Regions from separate parts of the Homo sapiens genome. Here regions 2 and 3 are each linked to region 1. The links come from fine-mapping of genetic effects on gene expression. A gene starts in region 1. Each other region holds a variant in brackets. All regions are shown on one strand. Distances are from middle to middle.

Evidence for each region.
Region 2: its variant is fine-mapped to the expression of ITM2B in whole blood (TOPMed, PIP 0.98).
Region 3: its variant is fine-mapped to the expression of ITM2B in lung (TOPMed, PIP 0.92).

Annotation. Positions count from the first base shown.
Region 1 is chr13:48,231,693-48,234,453 of GRCh38, forward strand. It overlaps ITM2B (integral membrane protein 2B), which reads left to right and starts at 1,514. Exons shown (of 6, transcript NM_021999.5): 1 at 1,514-1,785. The coding sequence starts at 1,669. RefSeq lists silencers at 1,390-1,749, 1,760-1,969 and an enhancer at 2,025-2,722.
Region 2 is chr13:48,142,969-48,145,729 of GRCh38, forward strand. The region is part of intron 4 of LOC105370198 (a long non-coding RNA gene); the gene reads right to left. Among named protein-coding and RNA genes, the nearest start is that of MED4, 49 kb to the left of the region's middle. The variant T/C (reference allele first, on the strand shown) is at 1,584.
Region 3 is chr13:48,123,245-48,126,005 of GRCh38, forward strand. The region is part of intron 5 of LOC105370198 (a long non-coding RNA gene); the gene reads right to left. Among named protein-coding and RNA genes, the nearest start is that of MED4, 30 kb to the left of the region's middle. The variant T/C (reference allele first, on the strand shown) is at 1,413.

The DNA.
Region 1 (2,761 bases):
TAACACAGAACGAAGTAGGAAGGATGTACATATAATTATTTATAATCCTCCAGATCTTGCTTCCAGAAATACTTAGTCTTCAACTGTAATGTCTCAGGGAACCTATTAAACTAGGGAGCTGGAAGCAGTCGTTGACTTTGAGGAATTAGATAACATTAGATACTATGAAAGTCCAGTCCATAGAGTCAACCTCACAGAGCCGATGCCTGCACAAGGGCGACCCAGGAGTTTAAATAAGTTGCTGCAAGTATGGTTAGCTACTGTTAAAACTCACCAGAACTGGAACCTAACTCATCCTCCTCTTGGTTGAGCAGATTTCATTTTGACAGGAATTTCTGAATACCCAAAGCAAACTCAAAGTCTGGCCTGGGTTTCTATCTCAGCCCAGGATGCTTCTGAAATACATGAACAGAAGGATTTGGAGATCTTGGGCTGTTTCCCTGGGACTTATGATCTGACATTCTATGGAAATACCCAACTCCCTCCTTGAGCAGGGCCAAATCCCCAAAGATCTCAGACTGAACCCACTTTTTTCAGGGTTGGCCCAAGGCAGAGCTGACACAGCTGTAACATTCTAGAGCACACCCACAACTCTGGATGAACCAGGACAGAATGGGGTGGAAGGATACAAGATAACACATTTGTCCAAGGGGGCCGTCTGTTGACACAGTAATGAACGCAGTAACGACGGGAGCCAGTATTCTACCTCGCATTAGTTGTAAATGAAACGTCTTCAAAACATGAGAATTTTGCGTTATCCTTAATTATTTTTTCATTTTGCAGAAAAATAAAGGGACTCGTCATCGAGTACTTTGAGTCACAAATCAGCCAAGTGTGCATGTGGTTTTTTTCCAAGTACGCACAAGAGTGGAACATTTCGTTTTACGAGTGTGAGATGTTTGAAATACAAATCTGCCAAGAGCTTCCTCCACATTGGTCTGGGACTAGGCAGAACAGGCCCTGACCTCCTGAGAGAGGGAAGGAAGACCAGGCAGGTCTGAGCCAGGTAAACGCCCTTGGGTGAGGTCCGTGAAAGATAAAGTCAGATCTCAAGGACAGAGAGCTTTAAACATGTTTGTGCTCCACTGAGTCGGTTACCTAATAAGTGAGAAAATGAAGATGTGGATGCACAAAAATTCCATGGCCTTTAGGCTCGCGGTGGGGACAGGGTACAGGGAAGCGGCGGTCTGGTGCTGCCAAAGGTTAGTCCCTTGTACCCGGCGAACTCAGGAAAGTTCACTCGATTTCGCTACAAACCTGCAGCACTCGGCCTGGAGGTAACCTGGTTGGGAGCGAATTCAGAACTGGAAATTCCAGGCGGCCCAGAGGGACACCCATCCCTCTCCGAGGCGCGCCGGGATCCGGCGCCCAGCTGCGGGGCGAGGGCAGGGTCCCGCGCAGCACCCCACCCCCGGCCGCTGGCCCCGCCCCCGCCCCCGCCCCGCCTCCCAGGGGATGTGCGAGCAGTCTCCGCCCTCGCGCGGGAGCTGGGAGGCTGCGAGATCCCTACCGCAGTAGCCGCCTCTGCCGCCGCGGAGCTTCCCGAACCTCTTCAGCCGCCCGGAGCCGCTCCCGGAGCCCGGCCGTAGAGGCTGCAATCGCAGCCGGGAGCCCGCAGCCCGCGCCCCGAGCCCGCCGCCGCCCTTCGAGGGCGCCCCAGGCCGCGCCATGGTGAAGGTGACGTTCAACTCCGCTCTGGCCCAGAAGGAGGCCAAGAAGGACGAGCCCAAGAGCGGCGAGGAGGCGCTCATCATCCCCCCCGACGCCGTCGCGGTGGACTGCAAGGTCCGAGCCCGGGGAGGTCGAGGAAGCGGGTGCTGGGCCCGGCCGGGGAGGGCTGCGCGGACTGCAGCGGCAGTGCGCCCCGAGGTGGCGGGCGCGGGGCTCGCGCCGCGGGGACAAGTCCCCGAGAGAGCCCGGCGCTCCCGTTTCCTGTGGGTCCGCAGCTCCTTTGTAAGGAAGTGCGTGTGCTGGAAGCGGTGCCTGACGCGGGGTCGGGGGCTTGGGAGGCCTGGAGAGGGAACGATTGGCTAATTGTGCCGAATTCCCGGTCGTTTGTGCAGTCCGGGGAGCGTGCGTGCAGCCAGGACTTGGCTTGTTCGATCTGGGGACCGGCAGCGACAGGCACAACAACAACAACCGAGTTTGGCACTTCCTTCCCAGTATAAATAATGTACCTAAAATGGCTGACATCATTACAAGCCTAAACCTCTGTTGTTTCCCACTTTCGTTTCTAGGCTTGAACAGCACTTGGACTAAGTCCAGCAACTGTAAGCGTCTTAATTTTAAAAGCGTTTCTTTACCTCCTTTTTCCACGGCCCTTCGGTAGTGGCAGGTGAACTTCACCTGGAGAGGGGACGAAGGGACAGTCCGCCCGAAGTAGGTTTGGGCTGTCTCTTACCATTACTAGTAAAGGCCAGTAATGACTATGTGGATGTTAGTGAAAAACCAATTGTTGGCATTTAAATTGTATCAGCGTCTTTGTGAGGACTCCTGCTGCGTGAAACTAAACATGAGAAATTTGCCCCCGGGTCCCTAATAAAATTCTCCTTTATTTTACAAAATCTCCCTTTAATCCTAGGAAAATTCATGAAGTGGGGCTGTTACTGTGTTGACTTTTAGTAGGTTACGATCATATTTACTTAAATATGAGTGTAATTGTCTCATAAGTTAAAAAAGCCCACAGCCTCTTACCCAGACCCTTTTTAGGCTGCAAAAATTAGAAATTAACTGTAAAGTTATGTTGCTTATCTTATTTTTT
Region 2 (2,761 bases), 89 kb before region 1:
AGCACTTTGGGAGGCCGAGGTGGGTGGATAACCTGAGGTCAGGAGTTTGAGACCAGCCTGGTCAACACGGTGAAACTCCGTCTCTACTAAAAACACAAAAAAAGTAGTCAGGTGTGGTGGTGGGTGCCTATAATCCCAGCTACTCAGGAGGCTGAGGCAGGAGAATTGCGTGACCCCTGCAGGTAGAGGTTAAAAAGTTAGCAGCTATGGTGGTGCACATCTGTAGTCCTAGCTACTTGGGAGGCTGAGGTGGGAGGATTGCTTGAGCCCAGAAATTCAAGCCTGCAGTGAGCCATGATTGTACCACTGCGCTCCAGCCTGAGCAACAGAGCAAGATCTTGTCTCTAAAAAAAAAAAAAAAAAAACATGTAGATGATGTTTAAATAATGGGATTGATGAGATTACCAAGTAGAGATTGTAGAAATGAGAAGACCTGGAAGCAACCAACATTTAAAAGTCAGACATAGAGGCTGGGTATGGTGGCTTTCACCTGTAATCCCAGCACTTTGGGAGGCCGAGGTGGGCAGATCACTTGAAGGAGTTCAAGACCAGCCTGGCCAACATGGCGAAACCCCATCTCTACTAAAAATACAAAAATTAGCCAGGCATGGTGGTGTGCGCCTGTAATCCTAACTACTCAGGAAGCTGGGGCAGGAGAATCGCTTGAACCCAGGAGGCAGAGGTTGCAGTGAGCCGAGATTGTGCCACTGCACTCTGGCCTGGGCAACAAAGCGAGACCCTGTCTAAAAAAAAAAAAAAAAAAAAAAAGTCAGACACAGAAAGTAAGACCAGCAAAGAAGACCGCAAAGGAAGAATGAAATAGGTGGGAAACCAGGAGAGCATGGTGTCAACAGAGGCCAAGATTATTTCTGGAAGAGGAGTGGAGTGAACTATGTCAAATGCTACTCAAAGTGAAGTAAGATGAGGACCGAGAAATGACCATTAGATTTGGCAAAATGGAGGACACCTTAATAAGAGCCATTTATTAGAGCGATGAAGACAAGCCCGACTGGAGTACATTGAAGGGAACTGGAGGTGAGAAAGTAGAGAGAACAAATACATATGTCTCTTTTGAGATGTTTTACCATGAAGAAAAGCACAGAGGAAATATGGGGTTAAGGAGGTTTCAAGAGGGATGAGCAATATTAAGGCATGTTTGCAAACTGTGGGAAATCATTCCATAAAGAGAGAGACTAACAGTGCAGTAAAAGGTGAATAATTGCAGGCATAAAGTCCTTGAGAAGGAGGACAAAATAGAATCCAGAGAACTCCAGAGAAGTTTTCGCCAACAGATTTTTTAACCTATGGGAGAGCAGTTTTAGGAAAACGGAGGAGGCAAAATCCAAACTGTGCGAGTTTAAGGAATGAAATATGGAACTAAAAATAACACAACTAAAATGACATTAGTGGTTCTCTCTGGGTAATACAGGATTTGGGATAATTTTTTTTTTCTGTGCTTCTTTTTACATTTCTGTGACTTTCAAATTTTCTGGAAGGAATTCTTACCACTATCATAATTAGGAAAAAAATGCAAAAAGTTTAAGAAAAGTGACGTCAGTAAGTGTACTGAATTGCATCTGTCT[T/C]GGAAGTAGGCCCACCCCTGAGAATACAGGAAGTACAGCAACAGTATCTAGACACAGACGTGACCCTGGCAGGAAGGCCGTGTTGTTCATGATGAAACTGTTTCTCCTTTTCAAATCCCCAGTCCCATATCTGCTGGGTACTACTAATTCAATGTACTCCAGATACAGGAGGAAGTCCACCCTAGCAGGCAAAACACAATAGCTAAAAAGGGTGGCTGCAGTCATTGCAGTTGTTCAGTATTGTGGTTGCCTCAGGTGAGGCTTGGAAGTCTAGGCAGATGGACACTTCACGCTACAGAAATGTCTACATGTAGGCAGCCACGCTACCAGAGTCCAAGACCAGGACTGGTGGGGTCAAAGGTGGGCTTGTAAGAACTAAGCCCCATGGCCAGGCACAGTGGCTCACGCCTGTAATCTCAGCACTTTGGGAGGCCAAGGTGGGTGGATCACCTGAGATCAGGAGTTCAAGAACCCATCTCGAACTCCCACCTCTACTAAAAGATGGGAAACCCAATCTCTACTAAAAATACAAAAATTAGCCGGGTGTGGTGGTGAGTGCCTGTTATCCCAGCTACTTGGGAGGCTGAGGCTGGAGAACTGCGTGAACCCGGGAGGCAGAAGTTGCAGTGAGCTGAGATCATGCCACTGCACTCCAGCCTGGGCAACAAGAGTGAAACTTGGTCTCAAAAAAGCAAAACAAACAAAACAAAACAAAACAAAACAAAAACAAAATTAAGCCCCCAGCAGGCGCACCATAGTGCTCCATTTAACAGAGGCCTCACATTCCTAAAGGACCTCTGAGCTGGTTATTTCCAGGTGAGGCCTCACATTTTACAGTGATGCACTAAAAGGACTGAAAGAAGGTGACTCTTACCATACAGCTTTGAACATGCTTCCCATTACTAAACCATTCATCTGTCCTGCATTATAAATTAAGGTATTTATAATCCCACAATTATTTTATGAGCAGCACAATTACATTGCATATTTTTCTTTGATTTAAAAGCCCCAAGGTTTTAGAGACATTTAAAATGTATCACATTTAAAACTAGCCCTGTTATAGTATTTCTTTATTTTCTGAAGTTAATAGACTTAATTTTTTTAGAATAGTTTCATATTTACAGAAAAATTGAGGCCAGGTGCAGTGGCTCATGCCTGTAATACCAGCATTTTGGGAG
Region 3 (2,761 bases), 110 kb before region 1:
ACAGTATGAAGGAACCACGAATACAAAACAAGGAAAACAAAAGACAGATTTTCAGAGTGCTGCCATGATGCACACAATTTCAAATAAAAGCTATGGTGAGTTTTAGCAAAATTTGGATATAAGAGATTTGGTTTTCAGATCCTGAGTCTCCTTTTTTGGCAGTGTTTTCTCATATCTGCGGTCTCTTCTCTTTAAGCACCAGAGGCCCCTCTATTCCTCACCAAGGAGAAAATATTGATGTAGACTCTTGGTGTGTAAGGCAAGACATAATCTTCCAAGAGTATCTGAAAGCTTCATCTTTATGTGGAAGGAATTTTCAGGTAAAAAGCTGGTGTGGAATTATACGAACCTTCCTGGTGTCCCTTCTCTCAAACCTCCCTAGAGGCACTTTCTATTTTTACTCTCTCTTCCTTGGTGCCATTTGTAACAGTGGGTATCTAGTTTACAAGGCACATCTTCACCCTGTCTTTGACTGGATTGAAAGAGGTTCCTTTCTCTAAGAAACAGCAGAATTCATGTAAGGAAAAGGCTATTTAGGTGAAATCGTGCTATGATATTTTGCTATGTCCAATCTATGATAAGGTCTTTGAAGGCCTATTATTGAGATGTGAAGTGTAAGGAAGCCAGTAGTCATTGAAAATTGCATTTCACGTAGAAACGTGCATCGCATTTGCTGAGGACATGAGTACCAGGGCTGGTGCTCTGAGCATGCCAGCGCTTGTTTACATGGGGCTGAAGGATGGCTTCCTCACTCGAACTACAAGGGCTGCCCCACCCTGCACTGGACTCAATGGAAGGAAGGGCGGGGTTGGCACAAAAAGTTTTGACAATACTCCAGTTCTTTGCACCCCAAATATTTACTGAAACAGTCGGATAATTCTTTAGGGAGACCAGGCCTAACACTACAAAAGGTGGCAAAGAGCCAGGAGGAGAAAAAAATGCTCCCGTTTGGTAAGGTTGTGTTTATTTTTGCCTGTAATAAATGCAGAAACAACAATACAGAAATACAGAAATTGTCCTACACACACCCTCTTCAAACTGATCACGCATTTGAAAATTTAGCTTCAGGGAAACCAGCCACTGCAGCTTCTATTCAGGCATTCCTGGTCCTGCAGGCAGCTGTTTCCTCTGCTTGGAATAGTGTCTCTTCTCACTGAAGCCCACCTTTCTTCTGATTCCTCTGCAGTCTTCTCCACATCCCACTGCCTGTATTAAGCCTCTCCCAGTTGTCCCAGCCCACAGTAATCTCTCTGTTCTTGGGCCTCCTACAGCACTCACTTGGCAAGTGTGGTGGCATTTATCTGCTTGTCCACTCAGCTCCTCTCCTTACCACTGGACCTTACACGGAATAGTCAACCTTCACTACATACGCCTACAAACAATGACAAGTTATTATAGTATAGTGGTTTAGG[T/C]GCACCATTGTCAAGTTCATGTTTGTGTGATTTGTAAACTCAAATGAAGAAGTTGGGCCAGGCGCGAATGCTCAGGCCTGTAATCCCAGCATTTTGGGAGGCCGAGGTGGGTGGATCACAAGAGGTCAGGAGTTCAAGGCCAGCCTGGCCAACATGATGAAACCCCATCTCTACCAAAAGTACAAAAAATTAGCCAGGCATAGTGGTGGGCACCTGTAATCCCAGCTACTCGGGAGGCTGAGACACGAGAATCACTTGAACCTGAGAGGCAGAGGTTGCAGTGAGCCAAGATCACACCACTTTACTCCAGCCTGGGTGACAGAGCGAGATTCCATCACTCACAAACACACACACACACACCCATTAAAAAAAAAAAAGTTTTCCTTTGTTACTTTTGAAATGTAGTAAATCCCTAATGTGTAATCATTTTCAAACATCATGGATTTTGTTAGGAGGCATAAGAAACAGCACGTGGGCTAGGCACCGTGGCTCATGCCTGTAATCCCAGCGATTTGGGAGGCCGAGGCAGGTGGATCACGAAGTCAGGAGTTCAAGACCAGCCTGGCCAACACAGTGAAACCCCATGTCTACTAAAAATACAAAAAATTAGTCGGGCGTGGTACCAGGCGCCTGTAATCCCAGCTACTCAGGAGGCTGAGGCAGGAGAATTGCTTGAACCCGGGAGGCAGATGTTGCAGTGAGCTGAGACCATGCCACTGCACTCCAGCCTGGGTGACAGAGTGAGACTCCATCTCAAAAAAAAAAAAAGAAAAGAAAAGAAAAGAAAGAGCACCTGGCAGATATGGGTAGAGAGATGAAGAACTAACTGAAGAGAATGAGAAGAGCAAGGAACTGGTTCACACAGTGCGAGCCCCATTGGTGTGCTTTACGTGGTCTGCTTCACTTGGGATTTTCTTGTGTTTGTTTGTTTTTTTTTTGTTGTTGTTTTTTTTTTGTTTTTTTTTTTTGTAGAGACAAGGTGTTGCTAAGTTTTGCCCAGGCTGGTCTTGAACACCTAGCCTTGAGCAATCCTCCCAAGGCCTTCTATCTTGGGTTTAACACTGAAAGTCCTAGGCAACCCCTCAGGCAAACCAGAAAGGTGGGTCACCCTACCAGGTGGCCAGTAAGCATCTTGACAAGAAGGAAATAACGTTTTAAGTCATGAACAGAGCCCTCTTTACTTTCTTTCACTTCAAATTCCAGTGCCTCGGCCTCTCCAAGGACATTCCACTCTCCTATAACAAGCCGAGGAGCAGGCAAAAATGCCCAGGGACTAAGCAGGAGTCCTGGGTTTATTAAACTCTCTCCACTTCAGAAGCAATGCCAGGCCCATTAGGACAACTGGTGAA